Linked DNA regions of Homo sapiens: region 2 is linked to region 1. Evidence: fine-mapped expression QTL. A gene starts in region 1. The other region holds a variant in brackets. All regions are shown on one strand. Distances are from middle to middle. Region 1 holds the start of MMP3 (matrix metallopeptidase 3). Region 2 has its middle 21 kb from the start of MMP1.

Region 1 (12,317 bases):
ATAACAGCCCCTGAAATAGTCAACTTCATTTGCTTCACATTCTAATCCATCTCAATCACTGCCACCAGATAAATCTCACAGAAACACAGTTCTGATGTCATTTATCTGATCAAGAGCAACACATAGAAAATTTTCAGTCTAAGAGGACAATTCCTTAGTAGCCACTGAAGCAGCCTTTCCCAAACTTGCACTAGAGCACATAAAATGAAAAGCTTTTTTTAAGAATGATTTTTCCAGTTTTTATAAAAACAGTGAAGTTATATTAGAAAAAATATTCAGAAGCCTGTCTATGTTTGTCTCACGAAACCTGAAGAACCTCTTGTCATCTGAAAGATCTAGAAAGATATTTGTTCTCAGGGTCCAGGACATATATTTTTCTATCAACTATAATAGAAAACACTGAAGCTGTATCTCTACTGAACAGGTTTTGATATTGGAAGAGAGAAAAACGATTGTGAACTGAGTGTCATATTCACCTAAGATATTTCCCATAGGATATTTTAACAAAAGACATTCTCAGACATGCTGGAATCAGTAAATTTCACTCCTGAACCACCTTTGGAAAACGTTTACATAAAGACACACAATTGCCAACTGGCTAAAAGCGAACATTTCCAGAATGCATAGGTCAGGCTATGAAAAGCTTAATGGAGCTACGTTTACTGAACTTGTTTGAAAAAGTCAGTTTTCTGATTGAAAAGTGTCTTTTCAGGATTTGACAGCCTGGAGTTAAGCTTTATCCGTAATGTTTTTCATACCTGTTCTCCTGCTTCCACTCTAATCCTCATATGAGAAAAATTGTTTATCAAGCATCATTATTTTACCCTACAACCAGATGAAATATACTGCCTGTTGGAGAACCACTGAAAACTTTATGTTACTCTGTTTTACATAACTGGAATATTTGTGCCAAGAATATTACAAAATGCTCTTTCCCTCCATAAAAACAGAGTTGCCTGGAGCCACATAAAAGCTATTGTCATTCTCAAAGTATTTAAGTGATAGATTTCAACATTTTTACCACTCATGTGGAGTGATCTGAGTCATTATGCTTTTATAAATGAAAAAAGACTGAGCCATCACGTGCAGAAATTACCTGTGCCTCATCCCTTTTCTATTCTAATTCCCCTTCCAACTAGAATGTTTGAAAGTTTCTATGGCAAATAGGCATAAAAATCAGAATATATAGTCTGATTTCAACTATGAAAACCTATGTGATATGAAAAAGTGCTCAACATCACTGATTATCAGAGAAATGCAAATCAAAACTACAATGAGATATCATCTTATCCCAGTAAAAATGGCTTTTTTCCCAAAAAACAGGCAATAACAAATTCTGGCAAGGATGTGGAGAAACGGGAACCCTCATACATCCTTGGTGAGGATGTAAATTAGTACAACCACCATGGACAACAGTACGGAAGTTTCTCAAAAAACTAAAAATAGACCTACCATATGATCCAGCAATTCCACTACTGAATATTTATCTAAAGGAAATGAAATCAACATGTCAAAGAGATATTTACACTTCCATGTTAACTGCAGCACTATTCACAATAGCCAAGATTTGGAAGCAACCTGTGTCCGTCAACAGATGAATTGATAAAGAAAACATAGTACATATACACAGTGGAGTCCCATTCAACCATGAAAAAGAACGAGACCTGTCATTTGCAACAACATTGACGGAACTGGAGGACATTACATTAAGTGAAATAAGCAAGGCACAGAAAGACAAACTTCACATGTTTTCACTTATTTGTGGGATCTAAAAATTAAAACAATTAAATTCATGGAGATAGAGAGTAGAATGAGGGTTACCAGTAGCTGAGAAGTGTAGTGGGGGGTAGTGGGAGTGGGTATGGTTAATGGGTACAAAAATATAGTTAGAATGAATATTATATAGTATTTGATAGCACAACAGGGTGACTACAGTCAACAATTTATTGTACATTTTAAAATAACTAAACAATAAGTTGGAATGTTTGTAACACAAGGAAGTGATCAATGCTTGAGGTGATGAATACCCCCATTTACCCCAATGTGATTGCTACATATTGCATACCAGTATCAAAATATTTTATTGTTAGGCATAGTGGCTCATGTCTGTAATCTTAGCACTTTGCGGGGCCAAGGTGGGCAAATCACTCAGGCCTAGGAATTTGAAACCAGTCTGAGCAACATGGCCCTATAATTCAGATGGAATATGTTGCCTTGTTAGTACTTCTGTCCAGCTAGTGATATTCAAAATTGTGGAAAATATAGATGAAATTTTATAAACTCCCATGATCAGCATGATGTGAAAAAGAATACACAGGTATAAAGAAATTAGAGGAAATACATAGTTAATACTGTTAGTAGTGTTTTTCTTTTTGGGTCATGACTATAAAAGATTTATTTTCTTCTTTGTACTTTTTTATATATTCTAAATTTTCTATAATAAACATTTAACGTTTTATTTAAGTATGTAAAATTTATTTAAAATGTTTTGTAGAAACTAGTGTATTAGTTTGTTTTCACACTGCTGATAAAGACATACCAGAGACTGGAAAGAAAAAGAGGTTTAATATGGACTTACAGTTTCACGTGGCTGGGAAAGCCTCACAATCATGGCAGAAGGTAAGGAGGAGCAAGTCATGTCTTACGTGGAAGGCAGCAGGCAAAAAAAGTGCTTGTGCAGGGAAACTACCATTTTTAAAACCATCAGATCTCATGAGACTCATTCACTATCATGAGAACAGCGCAGGGAAGACCCACCCCCATAATTCAATCACCTCCCACTGGGTTCTTCCCACGACATGTGGGAATTGTTGGAGTTACAATTCAAGATGAGATTTGGTTGGGGACACAGCCAGACCATATCACATGGCTTTCCACCAACAATGGAATAAGCTCTAAGCACCTTAGCTACAGACTAATGGTCTTCTATGACTGGACTCCAACCTATCTTTTCACAACTTTATTTTTTATTTTCCATTATTACCCTTCACATACCTTTTATTTCAATAAAAAGTAACTCTTTGACGTTTTCCATATAGAGTCTTTCTTGACTCTGCATACTTGTATACTCTGTTACTGAATTTTCCTCCATTTCCACCCTTGTTCTTAGCCAAAAGGCCAAGAAGCAATTTTCCTCCATTTCCAGATCATTCCAGGCTCACTTTATCTGCTACTTTATCTATGAGTTTTTTCTAAAGGAAACACCTAAAGTAAGCAAGCACCTTCTGCTTAATTCGTGTACAACTTTTTACTTTTTTTTTTTTTTGAGACAGGGTCTTGCTCTCTTGCCCAGGCTGGAGTGCAGTGGCACCATCACAGCTCACTTCCAGGGCTCAAGTGATCCTCCTGCCTCAGCTTCCCAAATAGCTGGGACTACAGGTGTGCACTGCCACAAGTGGCTAATTATTTTTATTTTTTCGTGGAGCTGAGGTCTCCCTATGTTGCCTAGGTGGGTCTTCAACTTCTGGGCTCAAGCAGTCCTCCTATCTCAGTCTCCCAAAGTGCTGAGGTTATAGGCAGGAGCCACCATACCAGGCTTATTTCTTATAGAATTAATTATATAGGGGATTCTTTCCTTGGCTAGGTTATATTCTCTCCTTCCCTCCTTCCCTCCCTCCCTCCCTCCTTCCCTCCCTCCCTCCCTCTTTTCCTTCCTTCCTTCCTTTCTTCCTTCCTTCCTTTCTTCCTTCCTCTACCTTCTTCCCTTCCTTCCTTCCTATACCTCCTTCCCTTCCTTCCTTTCTTCTTTCTTTCCTGCTTTTAAACAGCTAGTTTGTTCACTTTTTTTTTTTTACTAAAATTTTCTAAACTTTATCTCCAAATCTATACTCTTAGTTTGGGTATTCTGAAGCCCTTGAGACTCAGATACTTGATAAATGAATGTATAGCTGAAATAATGATTATATCAGTTATCAGCTAGAGGTAGCAAGGATCCTGCACAATCATGTCTGATTAGTCATGGAGAAGTGTGACAAATAGGAAGACAAATGTGAAAAGTTACGAGATAGAATGTTACCTGGGATCACTGCCAGTTTTTAAATCCAAGGATTAGATTGAATGTAAATTTAATTCTAAGCCGCTGATCCCTGGGAGGTCAGATTTATAAAACTAGCCATTATCTGACCCTTGTATTTATTTAACCATATAACAAATGATTGTTCTGTGGAACAGTCATTTTGATTTCTTGCTGGAAATGCCCACTTTTTTTCCGCTAGTATTCAGTTCCTCCCTCTACACCTGGAGTGTTTGCTCTCCTCCTCCCCTCTCCTCATCTTCCTCCCCCTTTCTCTTCTCCCTCCTTCTCCCTCCGTTCCTTCTTACACTCAGTTGCTCTTTAATTTTACCTATTCCTTCTCATTACTGCATTGATTTTTAAAACATACTCTACAAAATGCAATTTGACTGTCTCATGCACGGTTAGAAAACTTCTGGTTCTACAAGATTAGTTTGAGTGTTCTGCAGACATATGAATGAGGACTTCAATTATATATTAGAGAGATTTTAGATGATAGCTTGATCTTTTCTTGTGGAAATACAACTTCTAAAAAATTTAGTTTTTAGAGTATTTAGTATATATGACATGTAGAATCTGCAAATCTAGAAATGTCTGCATGATTTTTGGATTTTTTGACTTTTAATTTACCTGTTTGACATTTGCTATGAGCCTTTCACTCATAACTAATATATTATTTAGTTCTCTAAGTAATTTTTGGTTACCTACTATATATCAGATACCATGCTAAGTACTAGGAATACAGAATCAAATGAGGCATGGTCCATACCCTCAAGTAGCTTACATTAGAATGAGAGAGACAGATAAACCATTTCACTACAGTTCAGTGTGGAAAATAGAGTAGCAGAGGCAGGTACAAGGTACCATTGAACAATGATTAATGACTCTTCCTGGGACTTGGGAAACATCTTTCAGGGAAGTCGTCGAAGCTGTTTTAAAATATAGCAAACTTTTGTATTTAGTTCAGGAACAGCATGGCCCATTTTGCCAATCACATCTTAACAGTTGGAAAAGCAAACATATTATCTATCAGGCTTTCCTCTAAACTTTAAATATGTTTTATAAGTTATAACTCCAGAGAAAATTTACAAAGGATAAACCTTAATATAGAAGGAATTAGAGCTGCCACAGCTTCTACACTTTTAACCTCTCAATATTTTATCTGTTGGGCTCCACTGTTTCTTCCTGGAATTCACATCACTGCCACCACTCTGTTCTCCTTGTCCTCATATCAATGTGGCCAAATATTTTCCCTGTATTTCAATCAGGACAAGACATGGTTTTTCCCCCCATCAAAGGAATGGAGAACCATAGAATACTAGTTTTAAAATGTCTTTAGGCCAGGTGCCGTGACCCATGTCTGTAATCCTAGCACTTTGAGAGGTTGAGGCAGGAGAATCACTTGAGCCCAGAGCTCGAAACCAGCCTGGGCAACATAGTGAAACCTCTGTCTCTATTTTTTAAATAAAATTTGAAAAAGTCTTTAGACATAATCTAGTCTAAAAATGAAGGCTTAAATGTGATGTATAGCCCCCTGCCAAGTGGCTATCAACTGTGTGGGCATCTTCAGTCATAGGGATCTTATTGCCACAGAGAAATCCCTTTAAACTTATTGGGTAAAATCTCTCCAATGTTTATTAAGAAACACACAAAAAATAAAGCAAAGAAGAAAATGCAAAAGAGTTATAAATGAGAGGAAGCAAAATGGGCACTTATTAAAGGTCTAATAAATGCACATTTGTATCCATCATTCTACTGAGTTCTTACTCCCAAGATGTTCTTCCCTTTAGCAAACAAATAAGCAAGTCAGCAAAGAAAGAAAGAACAAACAAAATGTGGTGATCAGGGAAGCATTGAGGAGATGGATGGTGGCAGGTGGCAAGAGGACTATAAAAGTTTTACAAAATGTCTTCCTCTGAATATGTTTAGAGTCTTGCATTCAAGCATTTATTATACACCAATAATGTGAGCAACACTTTACTTGACAAAGAAACAGAAAAGAAAGGAAAGGAAGAAAACAGAAGAGCATGAAGAGAAAATTTAGGATGGATTCTGTTCTTCAACTTCAAAGCATCTGCTAATTTGAATTTAGGGAGGAGGGGAAAAGGTTGAAAGAGAATAAGACATGTGTAGAAGACAAGGACAGAGAGAATTTCAGTCCGGTAAGCAATGTAATTCATTTCAATTCTACAACTATTTATGGAGCAGCTACGTGGGCCCATCACCCATTAATAAATTGGTTACAGAATTAAAACCAACCCAAAGGGAATATACTTCCTTCTTTTTCACAGACCCTCTTTGTTCTATTCTGCCCATGAGGTTTTCCTCCTCAAGAACCAGCAAATCCAACGACAGTCAATAGCAGGCATTACAAATCAGATTCAGAAAAATAAATCACCCCTTCTAAATTTCTTCTAGATATTATCTTTTATGTTTTGAGTATAATTGTATATAGTATAGACTATAGCTATGTATGTACACTTTCCACTTACATCTTTTATTTGCTTTTATAATGTGTTTCTTAAAATAAAACTGCTTTTAGAAGTTCTGCACAATTCTGATTTTTACCAAGTCAACCTACTTCTTCTCTCAAAAGGACAAACATAAATTGTCTAGTGAATTCCAGTCAATTTTTCCAGAAGAAAAAAAATGCTCCAGTTTTCTCCTCTACCAAGACAGGAAGCACTTCCTGGAGATTAATCACTGTGTTGCCTTGCAAAATTGGGAAGGTTGAGAGAAATTAGTAAAGTAGGTTGTATCATCCTACTTTGAATTTGGAATGTTTGGAAATGGTCCTGCTGCCATTTGGATGAAAGCAAGGATGAGTCAAGCTGCGGGTGATCCAAACAAACACTGTCACTCTTTAAAAGCTGCGCTCCCGAGGTTGGACCTACAAGGAGGCAGGCAAGACAGCAAGGCATAGAGACAACATAGAGCTAAGTAAAGCCAGTGGAAATGAAGAGTCTTCCAATCCTACTGTTGCTGTGCGTGGCAGTTTGCTCAGCCTATCCATTGGATGGAGCTGCAAGGGGTGAGGACACCAGCATGAACCTTGTTCAGGTAATTAACACTAACTGACCTGGCCAGGTGGGGAGCTTCCAGAGTAAGCTGAAACCATTCTGTGTGTCTTAAAACCCACATAGAATGCTTGAGCTTACTGTGTAGGAACAGTTCAAGAATAGAGAGTTATAGAGTGTTGGAAGTGGAAAAGGTCTCATTATCACACCATTTGGGCTTCTCCTCTTATGTAGGAAGAAACAAAGGCCAGAAATATTAGGTGTTTTCTTAAGATCACACAACACCATAGCAGTAGCAGCACTGGGGCTTAAGGCACATGAGTAACAAGTGGAGAGTGGATGAACCATATCTTGCTTTGGAACAGCTTCAGTTTTTTTTTTAATGCAACGTAATTTTAGCTAAATATTTGTGTTGCTAGTATCATATTATAAAATTTGCCATTATTTCAGCAAGCTAGAGAAATACTCCAAATAGATTAAGAAGTGAGCAACTGCAAAAACTTACTATAAATAGATAGCTATAGTAAAAATTGTAAGAGTGACCTAAAAACTATACTTATTCTGTTAGAAATATCTAGAAAACTACTACGACCTCAAAAAAGATGTGAAACAGTTTGTTAGGAGAAAGGACAGTGGTCCTGTTGTTAAAAAAATCCGAGAAATGCAGAAGTTCCTTGGATTGGAGGTGACGGGGAAGCTGGACTCCGACACTCTGGAGGTGATGCGCAAGCCCAGGTGTGGAGTTCCTGATGTTGGTCACTTCAGAACCTTTCCTGGCATCCCGAAGTGGAGGAAAACCCACCTTACATACAGGTAATGGTTCAGAGGGGTTTTCACATAAGATTGGAATTTTATAAACTATATCATAGGAGAAAATAGCATCTGCTTCAATTTTTCTCCTACAGGATTGTGAATTATACACCAGATTTGCCAAAAGATGCTGTTGATTCTGCTGTTGAGAAAGCTCTGAAAGTCTGGGAAGAGGTGACTCCACTCACATTCTCCAGGCTGTATGAAGGAGAGGCTGATATAATGATCTCTTTTGCAGTTAGAGGTAAAAAAAAAAAAAAAAAAAAAAAAGCAAAACAAAACAAAACAAAAAACACATGAAATGTATCCATTCATCTATCTGGTGTTGTTGTACTGGAAAAGGCTCAAAAGGGATCCTTGTTACATATCTTTCCAATAAATTTTTTTCCTACTAGAACATGGAGACTTTTACCCTTTTGATGGACCTGGAAATGTTTTGGCCCATGCCTATGCCCCTGGGCCAGGGATTAATGGAGATGCCCACTTTGATGATGATGAACAATGGACAAAGGATACAACAGGTTAGTTACACATCTCTCAGAATGATTTTGGCATTAATTTTTTTATATGTAGAAATCTGTTAATAACCAAGAATGCTCAAGAAATGAGATGTTCTGGATTTTCCAGTGGATCAGAGATCAGCAGAATATATTTTTGTTTTAATTATTATTGAAAATATTTTCAGATGCTTTAACAGTTTTCCTATATTGGTAAGCACAATATAGGAAATATCATTAAGTATTTCTTTAATGACTGGATCTTTGTGATCTAGGGGTAACCATTATTAAGAAAAATTTCTCATATCAAAATACAAACATTCAAGGGATAGTATATTGCACTGAATCTACATTAAAATGTGCTCTGGATGTTACTTATGTAATTTCCTCCATTTACTTCTTTACTCTTCAAACCAGAAATAAGAATTAAATTTCAGAAACTGAGATTCTCTTTTTTTTTTTTTTCTGGCTGAGGCATTATTTTAGTACTTTTAGGTTAAAAGAATTTTTATGGGCTTGTTCTGAAGGAAAAGACTAACTCCCAAATACAACGTTCAAACTGTTTAGGTAGAAGAATGTTTCTCAGTTCATAACTGTATGTTTTGGGGAATGACATCCAAAGTTTTCAAAAAAATCAGCTAAAACAATTAACACTACTTCTAAAAAAATAGGAAAACAATTAATACTATGTCTGAGGTTTAACTGGGATTTATAATGAAAATGTAAACCTCTGTAGGACGTACAAATGTGAGTTTAGTCCTGGATAGAATTCTTGATTGGTTGAGTTAACGAATTCTTGTAAAGAAACCTTCCTGCAAACTCTCAAATGAGATTGTTCCTAGCATCACAAGTTACACAAGTAATACTAGCAAAAGTAAGGTAGATTTACTTACTATATTGATCATAATTACCCAATGCCTCCCAATTTTAGCATTATGGGTGTTTTTAAAAATATGAAGGAAAAAATTTTGAATAAAGCCAGTGTTTATGTATTCTAAATCTGTTGTGTGACAAATGCTAGACATGATTGGGCATACTGTGTTTTAAACCAATTTTGCAAATCCTATGACATCTATCATTATTCATGTTTTTAGTCTCAATATGTACTTCATGATGATGAGGCTGAGACATTATCAATTAACATGAATATAGTTTCCTTTAACTGAGACTGCAAATGGCAAATGTAAATATATTAAAACAGTGTTTAGCTTTGCATTGACAAATGAAGGTAAATATCTGATATGCTAAGCAAGTGGGTTCATTCCATTCCTGAGTACAAGAAAAGGGATCTGGTTCTTCTGGAGTTAATATGCTTGTGAGGCTGGGGGTGGGTTTGGGGCCATGGGGGGCAAGTGGATGTAACTGGGAAATCAATCTCAAAGATTGATTACAGGTATGAGTTTTAAAATACACTTAGCTTTCCATTAAGTGTGTAATTAGTCAATTGTTCAATTAACCAACAAACAAGGTGTAAAAAGCCCTGTGTGGTTCCAAGAAGTAAAAACCAATACAATGCACAGCAGACCTGTGTAATGCACATGTATTTAAAAAATAAGTAACTATTGTTCTCAATTTCTTAAATAGGGACCAATTTATTTCTCGTTGCTGCTCATGAAATTGGCCACTCCCTGGGTCTCTTTCACTCAGCCAACACTGAAGCTTTGATGTACCCACTCTATCACTCACTCACAGACCTGACTCGGTTCCGCCTGTCTCAAGATGATATAAATGGCATTCAGTCCCTCTATGGTGAGTGACACTGGGAAAATCAGCCATTGTAGTTTTGCAATGATGGTCTTCAGAAGAGCTTTCAAATGCTACATAAAGTATTTATGATTTAGTTCAAAGCACCGTGAGAATGTTTGGAAAGCATACAAATGGGCATATATTGAAACGTATCACATTTCCCCTAATGTTCCCTTTAGGACCTCCCCCTGACTCCCCTGAGACCCCCCTGGTACCCACGGAACCTGTCCCTCCAGAACCTGGGACGCCAGCCAACTGTGATCCTGCTTTGTCCTTTGATGCTGTCAGCACTCTGAGGGGAGAAATCCTGATCTTTAAAGACAGGTCAGGCTGAAAAATTATATTTTCCTACCATTTTAATCTACAATGTTTAGAAAGGAAAACACGCAGAAACTTGATAGAGATTCTTAGACATTTAAAACAAAAACGTTTCTTCTGAGCTTGGAATCATTTAGATCTGGTGCTGCCTTTTCCCACATTTTCCTAAAATTGTCAGGTTCATTTTTGAAGGCACAGGCTGATCTGGTTCTTAGCTTCTAATTGCTGTTTCCAAATGTCTTAAGTCACAGTTACTTTTCAAAAGGCATGAGTAGATCTTTCGAATAATAATTTTATTTTTACTTCCTTTAAAAATGACATCAGGATCAACATTACATTTAATCAAGTAATTTACTTACTGATGGATCAATATGCACATGACAAACATTCAAAGAGCACAAATGAGAAGCAAATTAAAAATTTTAGTTCCCAGTTCTCCCTGTACTCATCCAGAGTCAAGACTTTTTGTGCATCCTTCCAGAATCTTTCTACACACATACAAGAATATATTTACACAGCACATACACGTATACAAACACGGCCTAGCTTTTGGAAGAGGGTATAGCACACGCACTGTTTTGCATACATTGCAGGTAATTAAAGCTTATGCTGGGCTAATTCATTTGCACGATAGAATAATTTTTCTTTCATAGAAGACATTACTCTGGAAACCTATGACGGGAGACTCACTACAGTCTTCTGAAGAAAAAGGAAAGAAATTTTCTAATGGCAATATACCTGATTTCTATCTGTCATCCAGCCTAGAAGATGAGAGAATGGGGGAAGCTGGGTGAGGCAAGACGGTGAGGAAAATATTCTAAAGGTGAAAGATTGTTTTTCAATTTACATTTCTTTTTACATATATTTTAGGCACTTTTGGCGCAAATCCCTCAGGAAGCTTGAACCTGAATTGCATTTGATCTCTTCATTTTGGCCATCTCTTCCTTCAGGCGTGGATGCCGCATATGAAGTTACTAGCAAGGACCTCGTTTTCATTTTTAAAGGTAATTACTATATCATCATTTGTTTAACTTGCCAAAGTAAACCCTCTCATAAGAAATTGAACAACACTTTAATTTTCCCTACTACAAGTTCTGGCTAATACAGTAGTCAACGGTAATGAAGAAATAACCAGGGCTGATATCATTGTATTTATATTTCATAGATGATAAAAATAAAGACAAGAAGATAAATTACCCAGAGTTGTAAATTCTCTCATTTGACCTTAGTTCATTCATTCAGTCTGCAAATTTTTGTGAAAAGCCCACTGTAAGCTGGTGACTAAATCTAAAATTTGGGCTACTACTTTACCATGAAAATCAAAGATGCTAAAGTGTATTTCTAAAGCGAAAGGGCTTAACTGTTATAATTCAATATGACTCTGAATTATTTATATTTAACAGGAAATCAATTCTGGGCTATCAGAGGAAATGAGGTACGAGCTGGATACCCAAGAGGCATCCACACCCTAGGTTTCCCTCCAACCGTGAGGAAAATCGATGCAGCCATTTCTGATAAGGAAAAGAACAAAACATATTTCTTTGTAGAGGACAAATACTGGAGGTGAGATGCAAGAGAAATGACTTTGTATGGAGCCTAATTAGGGAAATTAGTTTCTTTTACTAAGGAAATCCCCCACCCCAACCTTAGGCCTGCTTCTCTCTTAGTAGGAAGGATGGGACTTCAGACAACTGTGGGAAAGTTCTTACTTTAAAACAGCAGCACCTTAGGCTCTCCTGCTTTCAGTCCCAAGTGCAGTTGGCTGGTGCTTCCCTTGGTGCTGTCACCCCACCTGCCTGGAGCCCCCTCTTCTCTCCTCAACCTATTCAAATCTTGCCCATCCTTCAAGTCCTGGCTCAAGTCTCATCACCTCCATGCAGCTTTCCCTCGTGGACTTTAGACCCATTGGGAAAATGT
Region 2 (12,317 bases), 25 kb after region 1:
CTTTGCCCTCTGCCATGATTGTAAATCCTCCTCAGCCATATGGAATTATGCGTCCATTAAAACTCTTTCCTTTATAAATTTCCCAGTCTTGGGTATGTCTTTATTAGCAGCATAAGAATGAACTAATACAGCCTATAAATGTGATTAAGAGCAAAAGAGATAGAGCAAAGAACAGACTGAGTGACATAATAGGGCAAGAGTTGGAATAAAGAAACAGCTGGAGTAGAGGAAGTGGTTGGCTCTTTGTAGCAGGTTGAGTCAAAGGGGTAAGTTTAGGTGACCTAGGAATGGATGTATAATACAGACATTCAGAAGTGGAAGGTTCATAATTTTGATAAGATCCTTTAAGTGACATTTTATATTATTTTTCTATTAATAAAATAAATCTTACGCCTGGTAATGAAATATCTCATGTGCACCCAAGGGCCTATTTCTAAGTAATGTAGCCATTTCATAATTCAAAAATAGCTGATAATTTCTCAATTAGGAAATGTCCATTACAAAATCACTGCAAAATCTGATGCCACAGGAGAAGCTTGAGTGACTCATAAAAGAGTACTGTGCAGGACATCTACACTCCTGGAACACATGTGGTATCTGAGACTACAAATGGATTCTTAAAGGCATGGAAATATTTTATGCATCTGCTGCAGAATACTGAACCAATATCCCTAACAAATTTATCTGAAAATGACAATTTAATCTTAAATTTTTCTGTGTGTGAACTTCCTTTGAATTTATTATCTCTCAAGTCCTAATGTGTTACCCTTTGACTGTCAGGTAGATGAAGTAGTCTTTTTCTCAATGTTCTGAGACCACATCAGTCTTGTGATTAATCAGATGCAAATTACATCCTTGTGAATGAGTGATCAACTTACAAAAAGAGTCATAACCATAAGACTATAGTTTGCAGAAATTTAGGTCAAAATCCTGCTCTGCTAAGAAAGGACAAAAATGCTTTCTACCTTTCGGGAGCTCACAATTGAGAATTATACCACTGATATGGAGATACATAAAGAGCAGACAGGGTAGGAGATATTAATTTGCTTTTTCATTCATTCATTCTTTCGACAATATTCACTAAGCACTCATTATATGCCAAGCACTTCTAAGAGCTTTGATAAATCAGTGTATTAGTTCATATTCATGCTGCTGATAAAGACATACCCAAGACTGGGCAATTTACAAAAGAAAGAGGTTTAATGGACTTACAGTTGCACATGGCTGAGGAGAACTCACAATCATGGCAGAAGCTTAGGAGGAGCAGTCATGTCTTATATGGATGGCAGCAGGCAAAGAGAGCTTGTGCAGGGAAACTCCCCTTTTTAAAACCATCAGATCTTGTGAGACTTATTCACTAGCATGAGAACAGCACAAGAAAGACCTGCCCCCATGATTCAATTACCTCCCACTGGGTCCCTCCCATAACATGTGGGAATTCAAGATGAGATTTGTCAGGGGAACACAGCCAAACCATATCAATCAGTGAAAAAAACAAAGATCTTTGTCTTCTTAGAACTTGCATTCAAACAAGAGAGACGGATAATAGCAAATAAATAACTTATGTCATATATTAGAAGGAGATAAGTACAATGGAAAATAGAAAAAGTAGAGTGAGGTTGGGATTGCAAGCAAAGAGGGCTTGGGGTGGTGACAGTTGCAGTAGGGTGCTCAAAGTAAGCCTCGTGGAGAAGATGATATCTGAACAAAGACTGGGAGAAGGCGAGAGAGCTTGCCAAGTGAATCTAGGAAAAAAGCACTCCAGCCTGAATAACAGCTAGAGTGGAGGATCCTAAGATGGAGTGTGATCATGATGGTCAAAGGACAGCAAGAGGACTACTTACAACAATCAAAAGGTGGGAGGGGAGTGGAAGTGCTAGAAGATAAAGTCCCAGGGATAAGGGTTGAGGTGGAAGGCAAAGTGAGTGGGGGTATTGGGCCAATATAAACACGGGCTTTCACTGTGAGTGAAATGGGGGTGGGCATTGGAAGGTGTGGAGCAGAAGAGCCTCTGGTGCTCTGCTAGGTTAGATTGTATGGGAGAAAGGGTAGATTCACAGAGACCTATGAGGAAGCTACTGCAGTATTCCGGCCAAGAGAGGATGGTGACTCCAATCAGGACGGGAACAGTGGAAATGGAGAGAAGGATATATTAGAGGGTGGAACCAGCAGGATTTAATGACAGACTGGCTGGGAAGTGTGAGAAAGAGAGAGGAGTTTAGGATGACTTCAAGTCTTTTGGACTGAGCAACTGAAAGGATGAAGCTGCCAAGTTGCCATCACCTGAAACGTGGAAGGCTGTGGGTGGAGCAGGGAGTTGGGGCAAGATTAGAGGTTCCATTTTGGACACATTGTGTGTTTGAGAGGTCTATTTGACATCCAAGTAGAGATGTTGGATATAGGAGTATGCAGTTTAGGGAAAAGGCCTGGATTGGAGACATAAATTTGGGAGTTATCAGCACATAGATGATTTTAAGGCTTGAGAATGGATGAGTTTAACAATGTAGTAAGAAAAAAGAAGTGAAGAGATCCAAGGACTGAGTCTTGAGGCATTTCAATATTGAATTAGAAAACATCTACAATATAAGTTCATATTTTGCCACTCTTCCTTTGTAATAGAATGCAACACCACAATCATTAATGGAATAAAGCAGGATAGCATATATTATATATAATCTATATAACCTATATATAGATTGTATGTGTATAATCTATAATTATAGGTTGCTGCTTGTTGATATTTGTGAGAGTCAACAGTAGGAATTATAATATTTATATATAGATATATACATTTATATACATATATTCAATGTTTATATACATGTGATGTGCTGGTAAGATGGACAGTTTGGGACAGAAAAGTGTGAACTCTTCATAGATGCTCCTAGGATGCGCAGCCAATGAGTGGAGGACTATTTAAGTTTATTTCCTTTCTCAAGGAAGGAAATGAGGGAGAAGTGATTGGAAAAGAGAAAGGATTAAGATGGCAAAATACAGAATGACATTAGGAAACTAATCTAGATTGATCATGTAGGAAGTGGGCAGGTGTAAAGGACACCTCATACAGGAGAGCTCCGGCTGGCATCTGGCACAATCATGGCAGAAGGCAAGGAGGAGCAGTCATGTCTTACATGGATGGGAGCAGGCAAAGAGAGCCTGTGCAGGGAAACCCCTTTTTAAAACCCTTCTCACCCCTCTGGGATGAAGCTTCCAGAGGAAGGAGCAGGGAAGAGAGTGGTGTCTGGGGAGAATATTCAGAGTCCCCAGGTTGGGACCAGAGAATCTGCAGGAGGGTCTTCATTCCTCAAGGATTAGAGGCTGAGAGGGCTTCAGTCAGTCTAACTAAGAAGCAAGGCCAGGCTTAACCTCAAGCAAGGAAAGGGATACTTGAGGTTGCTTGATTTGTGTCCATCTCATTCATTCATTGATGTATTCATTCCTTAAACAGGACATTTACAGAATGTCTGTGATTGCCAGGCACTGCGCTATGGATAAAAGATATATTCAGACAGGATTCCTGCTTATACTCTAGCAGGAGAGAGAGAAAAGTGAACAGGCAAGCAGGTTACAGGATATGAGTACTATTTAGTGCAGGCACACAGAGCTGGGGAAACACATAGCAACTAACCAGGCTTCAGAGATCAGGGAAGGATTTTCGAAAAGGTACATTTAAGCTGAGACCCAAAGGGCAAATGCTTAGTAAGTCAAGGAAAGGAGGGGTGGTATCTCTTCCAAATAGATGGTATAGGATGTAAAAGCCAAGAAAGGAGAGAAAACCTGACTTTTTATCTACTTCGACTCCTTAGCAGGGTATCAAAGCCCTTCATAATTCCAGCCCTGGTTACTGATCCATCTCATCTCTTATTATCTCCTACCCCAAATGCTACACTCCAGCCATTCTGAACCACTTGAATTTCCCTATATGTACCAAGCTCTCTTCTTTCTCCAGCCCTCAAGGTCGCTGTACCCACTGCCTAGAATATTGTGAATGATATGTTTGTTATGCATGCCTATTTGTTTTTCCTTCTCTGACATGTCCTCCAAAGTCCCCATGGATATGGCAGACCTAGACAATAATGTTTGTACCAGCAACCTCACCAGTATGGCTCTAGTTGATTGGATTAGAGATGAACACAAGAATAAAGCAGAGCCTGTCATGTGCTCTTTCCCAGAATTAGAAATGATAGACCCAGAACACATGTCCATGATCAAATTCATAAGATGAACTAGGATTGGAACCAGAATTAGAACCATAGCAAGTCCTAGTCACACACAGGCTGATGTTACGGAGGGGGAGCATCAGTTTGAAGGAGCCTACAGAAAGAAAAAATAGCAAACATTCAGGTTAAGTCTATGTAAGAAAAAGAGAGAAACACAGAGAAGGCAGAGGGATGGGGGAGAGAATGAGAGACAGAGACAGAGCTTGTAATCTTTCCATTTCTCAAGAAGGCTGTCCTGAGATTAGATCCCATGAGAATCCTCAAGTTCCTTACTATAAATCCCCTGTAAATGATCTCCCAACAAAAAGATTTTAGGCTTAGACATAAGTTAAAAGTGGGTTGGCAAGCCACAGACCCTCAGAGGATATGTGGAATTGGTGGTGGGGGTCCCAGGAGGGCAGCGTAAAATACCATGTCAAAGTGAAGCCAGTACTTGAGGAGGGGGAAAAATCAGCTGATTACCTGCCATCTGTATTAAACTGTGTCCTGGAACCCAAGCCATGGGCTTCCTGAGGGTGAAGTTTTAAGGTCTTTGGATAAAAAGTAAATGTATTTGAAGGTGTTGATTATTCCTCATAATCTAAAGTCTCTAATGAAAGGAACATGTTATAATCCAGATTTCCTTACAGAAAATGAGTAAGTAAGTAAAATAAGTCAAAAAATAAAGAAGGCCTGAGACTGAGAGGCAAGATGGCCGAGTAAGAACAGCTCTGGTCTGCAGCTCCTAGTGAGACCAATGCAGAAGCTGGGTGATTTCTGCATTTGCAACTGAGGTACGTGGTTCATCTCATTGGGACTGGTTAGACAATGGATGCAGCCCACGGAGGGTAAGCAGGAGCAGGGTGGGGCGTCACCTCACCTGGGAAGTACAAGCGGTTGGGGAACTCCTTCCCCTAGCCAAGGGAAGCCATAAGGGACTGTGCCGTCAGGGACTGTACCATGAGCAACAGTGCACTCCAGAGCAGACACTACACTTTTCCATGGTCTTTGTAAACCGCAGACCAGGAAATTCCTCAGGTGCCTACACCACCAGGGCCCTAGGTTTCAAGCACAAAACTAGGTGGCCATTTGAGCAGACACAAAGCTAGCTGCAGGAGTTTTTTTTTTTTTTTTTTTTTTTTGTACCCCAGTGGTGCCTGGAACACCAGCGGGACAGAACCATGCACTCCCCTGAAAAGGGGGCTGAAGCCAGAGAGCCGAGTGGTCTTCTCAGCGGATCCCACCCTCACGGAGCCCAACAAGCTAAGACCCACTGGTTTGAAATTCTCACTGCCAGCACAGTAGTCCGAAGTCGACCTGGGACGCCCAAGCTTGGTGCAGGGAGGGGCATCCACCATTAGTGAGGCTCCAGTAGGCTGTTTTCCCCTCATAGTGTAAACAAAGCCACCAGGAAGTGAACTGGGTGTGAAACCAGTGTGGTGAAGCCACTGCAGCCAGATTGCCTCTCTAGATTCCTCCTCTCTGGGCAGGGCATCTCTGAAAGAAAGGCAGAAGCCCCAGTCAGGGGCTTATAGATTAAAACTCTCATCTCCCTGGGACAGAGCCCCTGGGGGAAGGAGCAGCTGTGGGCACAGCTTCAGCAAACTTAAACATTCCTGCCTGTCAGCTCTGAAGAGAGCAGCAGATCTCCCGGCACAGTGCTTGAGCTCCGCTAAGGAACAAACTGCCTCCTCAAGTGGGTCCCTGACCCTCATGCCTCCTGACTGGGAAACATCTCCTAGCAGGGGTCAACAGACACCTCATACAGGAGAGCTCCTGCTGGCATCTGGCAGGTGCCCCTCTGTGACGAAGCTTCCAGAGGAAGGAGCAGACAGCAATCTTTGCTGTTCTGCAGCCTCTGCTGGTGATAGCTAGGCAAACAGGGTCTGGAGTGGACCTCCAGCAAACTCCAGCAGACCTGCAGAAGAGAGCCCTCAATGTCAGAATAAAAACTAACAAACAGAAAGCAATAGCATCAACATCAACAAAAAGGACACCCACATAAAAA[C/A]CCCATCCAAAGGTCACCAACGTCAAAGACCAAAGGTAGATAAATCCACGAAGATGAGGAAAAAACAGCACAAAAAGGCTGAAAATTCCAAAAACCAGAATGCCTCTTCTCCTCCAAAGGATCACAACTCCTCGCCAGCAAGGGAACAAAACTGGACGGAGAACGAGTTTCATGAATTGACAGAAGTAGTCTTCAGATGGTGGGTAATAACAGACTCCACCAAGCTAAAAGAACATGTTCCAACCCAATGCAAGGAAGCTAAGAACCTTGATAAAAGGTTACAGAAACTGCTAACTAGAATAACCAGTTTAGAGAAGAACATAAATGACCTGATAGAGTTGAAAAACACAACACAAGAACTTCGTGAAGCATACACAAGTATCAATAGCTAAATCAATCAAGTGGAAGAAAGGATATCAGAGATTGAAGATCAACTTAATGAAATAAAACATGAAGATAAGATTAGAGAAGAAATAATAAAAAGGAATGAACAAAGCCTCCAAGAAATATGGGACTATGTGAAAAGACCAAACCTACGTTTGATTGGTGTACCTGAAAGTGACGGGGGAATGGAATCAAGTTGGAAAACACACTTCATGATATTATCCAAGAGAACTTCCTCAACCTAGTAAGACAGGCCAACATTCAAATTCGGGAAATACAGAGAACACTACAAAGATACTCCCTGAGAAGAGCAACCCCAAGACACATAATCATCAGATTCACCAAGATGAAATGGAGGAAAAAATGTTAAGAGCAGCCAGAGAGAAAGGTCGGGTTACCCACAAAGGGAAGCTCATTACACTAACAGTGGATCTCTCTGCAGAAACCCTACAAGCCAGAAGAGAATGGGGGCCAATATTCAACATTCTTAAAGAAAAGAATTTTCAACCCAGAATTTCATATCCAGCCAAACTAAGCTTCATAAGTGAAGGAGAAATAAAATCCTTTACAGACAAGCAAATGCTGAGGGATTTTGTCACCATCAGGCCTGCCTTACAAGAGCTCCAGAAGGAAGTACTAAATATGGAAAGGAAAAACCGGTACTAGCCACTGCAAAAGCATACCAAATTGTAAAGACCACCTACACTATGAAGAAACTGCATCAACTAACGGGCAAAATAACCAGCTAGCATCATAATGACAGGATCAAATTCACACAAAACAATATTAACCTTAAATGTAAATGAGCTAAATGCCCCAATTAAAAGACACAGACTGGCAAATTAGATAAAGAGTCAAGGCCCATTGGTGCGCTGTATTCAGAAGACCCATCTCACATGCAAATACACACATAGGCTCAAAATAAAGGGATAGAGAAATATTTACCAAGTAAATGGAAAGCAAAAAAAAAAAAAAAAAAAAAAAAAAAAAAAAAAAAAAAAAGCAGGGGTTGCAATCCTAGTCTCTGATAAAACAGACTTTATACTAACAAAGATCAAAAAAGACAAACAAGGGCATTACATAATGGTAAAGGTATCAATACAACATGAAGAACTAACTATCCTAAATATATATGCAGCCAAAACAGGAGCACCCAGATTCATAAAGCAACTTCTTAGAGACCTACAAAGAGACTTAGACTCCCACACAATAATAGCAGGAAAATTTAACAGCCCACTGTCAACATTAGATCAAGGAGACAGAAAATTAACAAGGATATTCAGGACTTGAACTCAGCTCTGGACCAAGTGGAACTAATAGACATATACAGAACTTTCCACCCCAAATCAACAGAATATACATTCTTCTCAGCACCACATAGCACTTTTTCTAAAATTGACCACATAATTCAAAGTAAAACCCTCCTCAGCAAATGCAAAATAATGGAAATAATAAAAAACAGTCTCTCAGACCACAGTGCAATCAAATTAGGATTCAGGATTAAGAAACTCACTCAAAGCCAAACAACTACATGGAAACTGAACAACCTGTTCCTAAATGACTACTGGGTAAATAACGAAATTAAGGTAGGAATAAATAAGTTCTTTGAAACGAATGAGAAAAAAAGACACAATGTACCAGAATCTCTGGGGCACAGCTAAAGCAGTGTTAAGAGGGAAATTTATAGCACTAAGTGCCCACACGAGAAAACCAGGAATATCTAAAATCGACACCCTAACATCTCAATTAAAAGAGCTAGAGAAGCAAGAGCAAAAAATTCAAAAGTTAGCAGAAGACAGTAAATAACTAAGATTAGAGCAGACCTGCAGGAGATAGAGACACAAAAAAACCCTTCAAAAAATCAAAGAATCCAGGAGCTGGTTTTTTGAAAAGATTAACAAAAGAGATCGACGACTAGCAAGACTAATAAAGAAGAAAAGAGAAGAATCAAATAGGCACAATAAAAAATGATAAAGGGAGAATACCACTGATCCCACAGAAATGCAAACTACCATCAGAGAATAGTATAAATACCTCTATGCAAATAAACTAGAAAATCTAGAAGAAATGGATACATTCCTGGACATATACACCCGCCCAAGATTAACCAGGAAGAAGTCGAATCCCTGAATAGACCAATAACAAGCTCTGAAATTGAGGCAGTAATTAATAGCCTACCAACCATAAAAAGCCCAGGATCAGACAAATTCACAGCCGGATTCTACCAGAGGTACAAAAAGGAGCTGGTACCATTCCTTCTGAAACTATTCCAATAGAAAAGGAGGGACTCCTCCCTAACTCATTTTGTGAGACCAGCATCACTCTGATACCAAAACCTGGCAGAGACACAACAAAAAAAGAAAATTTTAGGCTAATATCCATGATGAACATCGATGCGAAAATCCTCAATAAAATACTGGCAAACCAAATCCAGCAGCACATTAAAAACCTTATCCACAATGATCAAGTCAGCTTCATCCCTGGGATGCAAGGCTGGTTCAACATACGCAAATCAATAAATGTAATCCATCACATAAACAGAACCAATGGCAAAAACCACATGATTATTTCAATAGATGCAGAGAAGACTTTTGATAAAATTCAACACTCTTTCATGCTAAAAACACTAAATAAAGTAGGTATTGATGGAACGTATCTCAAAATAATGAGAGCTATTTATGACAAACCCACAGCCAATATAATACTGAATGGGCAAAAGCTGGAAGCATTCCCTTTGAAAACCAGCACAAGACAAAGGATACACTCTCTCACCACTCCTATTCAACATAGTGTTGAAAGTTATTGCAGGGCAATATTGAAAGATAGCAGGGCAATCATGCAAGAGAAAGAAATAAAGCATATTCAAATAGGAAGAGAGGAAGTCAAATTGTCTGTTTGCAGATGACGTGATTGTGTATTTAGAAAACCCATCATCTCAGCCCAAAAACTCCTTAAGCTGATAAGAAACTTCAGCAAAGTTTCAGGATACAAAATCAATGTGCAAAAATCAGGAGCATTCCTATACACCAATAATAGACAAACAGAGAGCCAAATCATGAGTGAACACCCGTTCACAATTGCTACAAAGAGAATAAAATACCTAGGAATCCAACTTACAAGGGATATGAAGGACCTCTTCAAGGAGAACTACAAACCACTGCTCAAGGAAATGAGAGGACACAAACAAATGAAAAAACATTCCATGCTCATGGATAAGAAGAATCAATATCACGAAAATGGCCATACTGACCAAAGTAATATATAGATTCAATGCCATCCCCATCAAGCTACCATTGACTTTCTTAACAGAATTAGAAAAAAACTACTTTAAATTTCATATGGAACCAAAAATAGCCAAGACAATCCTAAGCAAAAAGAACAAAGCTAGAGGAATCACGTTACCTGACTTCAAACTATACTACAAGGTTACAGTAACCAAAACAGCTTGGTACTGATACCAAAACAGATATATAGACCAATGGAACAGAACAGAGGCCTCAGAAGTAATATCACACATCTACAACCATCTGATCTTTGACAAACCTGACAAAAACAAGCAATGGGGAAAGAATTCCCTATTGTGGGAAAACTGGCTAGCCATATGCAGAAAACTGAAACTAGACCCCTTCCTTCACCTTATACAAAAATTAACTCAAGATGGATTAAAGCCTTAAATAAAAGACCTAAAACCATAAAAAACCCTAGAAGAAAATCTAGGCAATACCATTCAGGACACAGGCATGGACAAAGACTTCATGACTAAAACACCAAAAGCAATGGCAACAGAAGCCAAAATTGACAAACAGGATCTAATTAAACTAAAGCGCTTCTGCACAGCTAAAGAAACTATCATTAGAGTGAACAGGCAACCTACAGAATGGGAGAAAGTTTTTGCAGTCTATCCATCTGACAAAGGGCTAATATCCAGCATCTACAAGGAACTTAAATTTACAAGAAAAAAAAAACCATCAAAAAGTGGGCAAAGGATATGAATAGACATTTCTCAAAAGAAGACATTTATGGGGCCAATAAACATACGAAAAAAAGCTCGTCATCATTGGTCATTACAGAAATGCAAATCAAAACCACAATGAGATACCATTTCACACCAGTTAGAATGGCAATCATTACAAAGTCAGGAAACAACAGATGCTGAAGAGGATGTGGAGAAATAGGAACACTTTTACACGGTTGGTGGGAGTGTAAATTAGTTCAACCATTGTGGAAGACAGTGTGGCGATTCCTCAGGGTTCCAGAACCAGAAATACCATTTGACCCAGCAATCCCATTGCTGGGTATATACCCAAAGGATTATAAATCATTCTGCTATAAAGACACATGTACACGTATGTATATTGCAGCACATTCACAATAGCAAAGACTTGGAACCAACCCAAATGCCCATCAATGATAGACTAGATAAAGAAAATGTGACACATATACACCACGGAATACTATGCAGTCATAAAAAAGAATGAGTTCATGTCCTTTGCAGGCATATGAATGAAGCTGGAAACCACCATTTTCCATAGACTAACACAGGAACAGAAAACCAAACACCTCATGCTCTCATTCATAAGTGGGAATTGAACAATGAGAACATATCGGCACAGGGAGGGGGACATCACACACCAGGGCCTGTCGGGGAGTTGGGGGCAAGGGAAGGGATAACATTAGGAGAAATATCTAATGTAGATGACGGGTTGATGGGTACAGCAAACCACCATGGCACATGTATACCTATGTAACAAACCTGCATGTTCTGCACATGTATCTTAGAACTTAAAGTATAATTAGAAAGGTAGAAAGAAGGAAGGAAGGAAGGGAGGAAAGAAAGAAGGAAAGAAGAAAGAGAGAAAGAAAGAAAGAGAGAAAGAGAGAGGGAGGGAGGGAAAAGAAAAGAGAAAAGAAAAGAAGGCCTACAATCTGTTATTCACGTTCAGACTACCCAAGATGTGTCTAGAAATTAGTCATGTACCTGGCTGAATTGCAACAGTTGAATGCTCTGCCCCACCCAGATGGTAACAGGAATGATAGTGTTCTGAGTGGTGAGAAATGAGTTAAAGACCAGTGAGGAAAGCTGGTGGAGGGTTCTAAGAAATCTAACTCCACTTGCCCAGTGCCTCCCTTCAAAGTGCTTCTCATTAATGGATTCCATCAGATTCCTCTGGTTCTTTAAAATAATCCTCCCTTTAATTCAGTTTGGCATTCCAACCGAATGGAAGGATTGCCTTCCAATCAAATGGTTCCTGATGAAAATGATCACACTGTTCTCCTATTTGTCTTGCACTTGAAGACCCAGCTCAGGGGTTACCATCTTTGGGGACATTCTGAGACCTTGCCAACTCTGCCTACTGGCTGTGTTCATTCCTCCTCTTATGTGCGTCCATTCACACACAGCCCACTGCAGCTGTCCACTTGAATGCATCCCACATGGGCACATTGGACGATGCCCAGCATCAAGCCCCTGACTTAGTCGATGCTCATTAAACTTTTGTTGAATGAATGAATAAGTTTGGCAAGGCAGCAATGCTTGATCCTGGGTGTGAAGAAGTAGTAGGAGTCTATCAGGCCAAGTGTGAAGAGGAAAGGAAGAGCATAGGCAATGGCATTAAGATATGAGAGAACATGTCATATCTAGGAAATTACAGGGTTTGACTACAGTAGGAAAGATGGTCTTTTCTGAGTTATAGTGTAGAGGGAAGAATATGAAGTAATTTTCTAAT

What was found.
Region 2: its variant is fine-mapped to the expression of MMP3 in nasal epithelium (TOPMed, PIP 0.93).

The regions. Positions count from the first base shown.
Region 1 is chr11:102,838,197-102,850,513 of GRCh38, reverse strand. MMP3 (matrix metallopeptidase 3) reads left to right here and starts at 6,905. Exons shown (of 10, transcript NM_002422.5): 1 at 6,905-7,072; 2 at 7,598-7,842; 3 at 7,935-8,083; 4 at 8,235-8,360; 5 at 9,921-10,085; 6 at 10,262-10,406; 7 at 11,271-11,404; 8 at 11,804-11,963. The coding sequence starts at 6,968.
Region 2 is chr11:102,812,961-102,825,277 of GRCh38, reverse strand. It overlaps the pseudogene WTAPP1. Among named protein-coding and RNA genes, the nearest start is that of MMP1, 21 kb to the right of the region's middle. The variant C/A (reference allele first, on the strand shown) is at 6,208.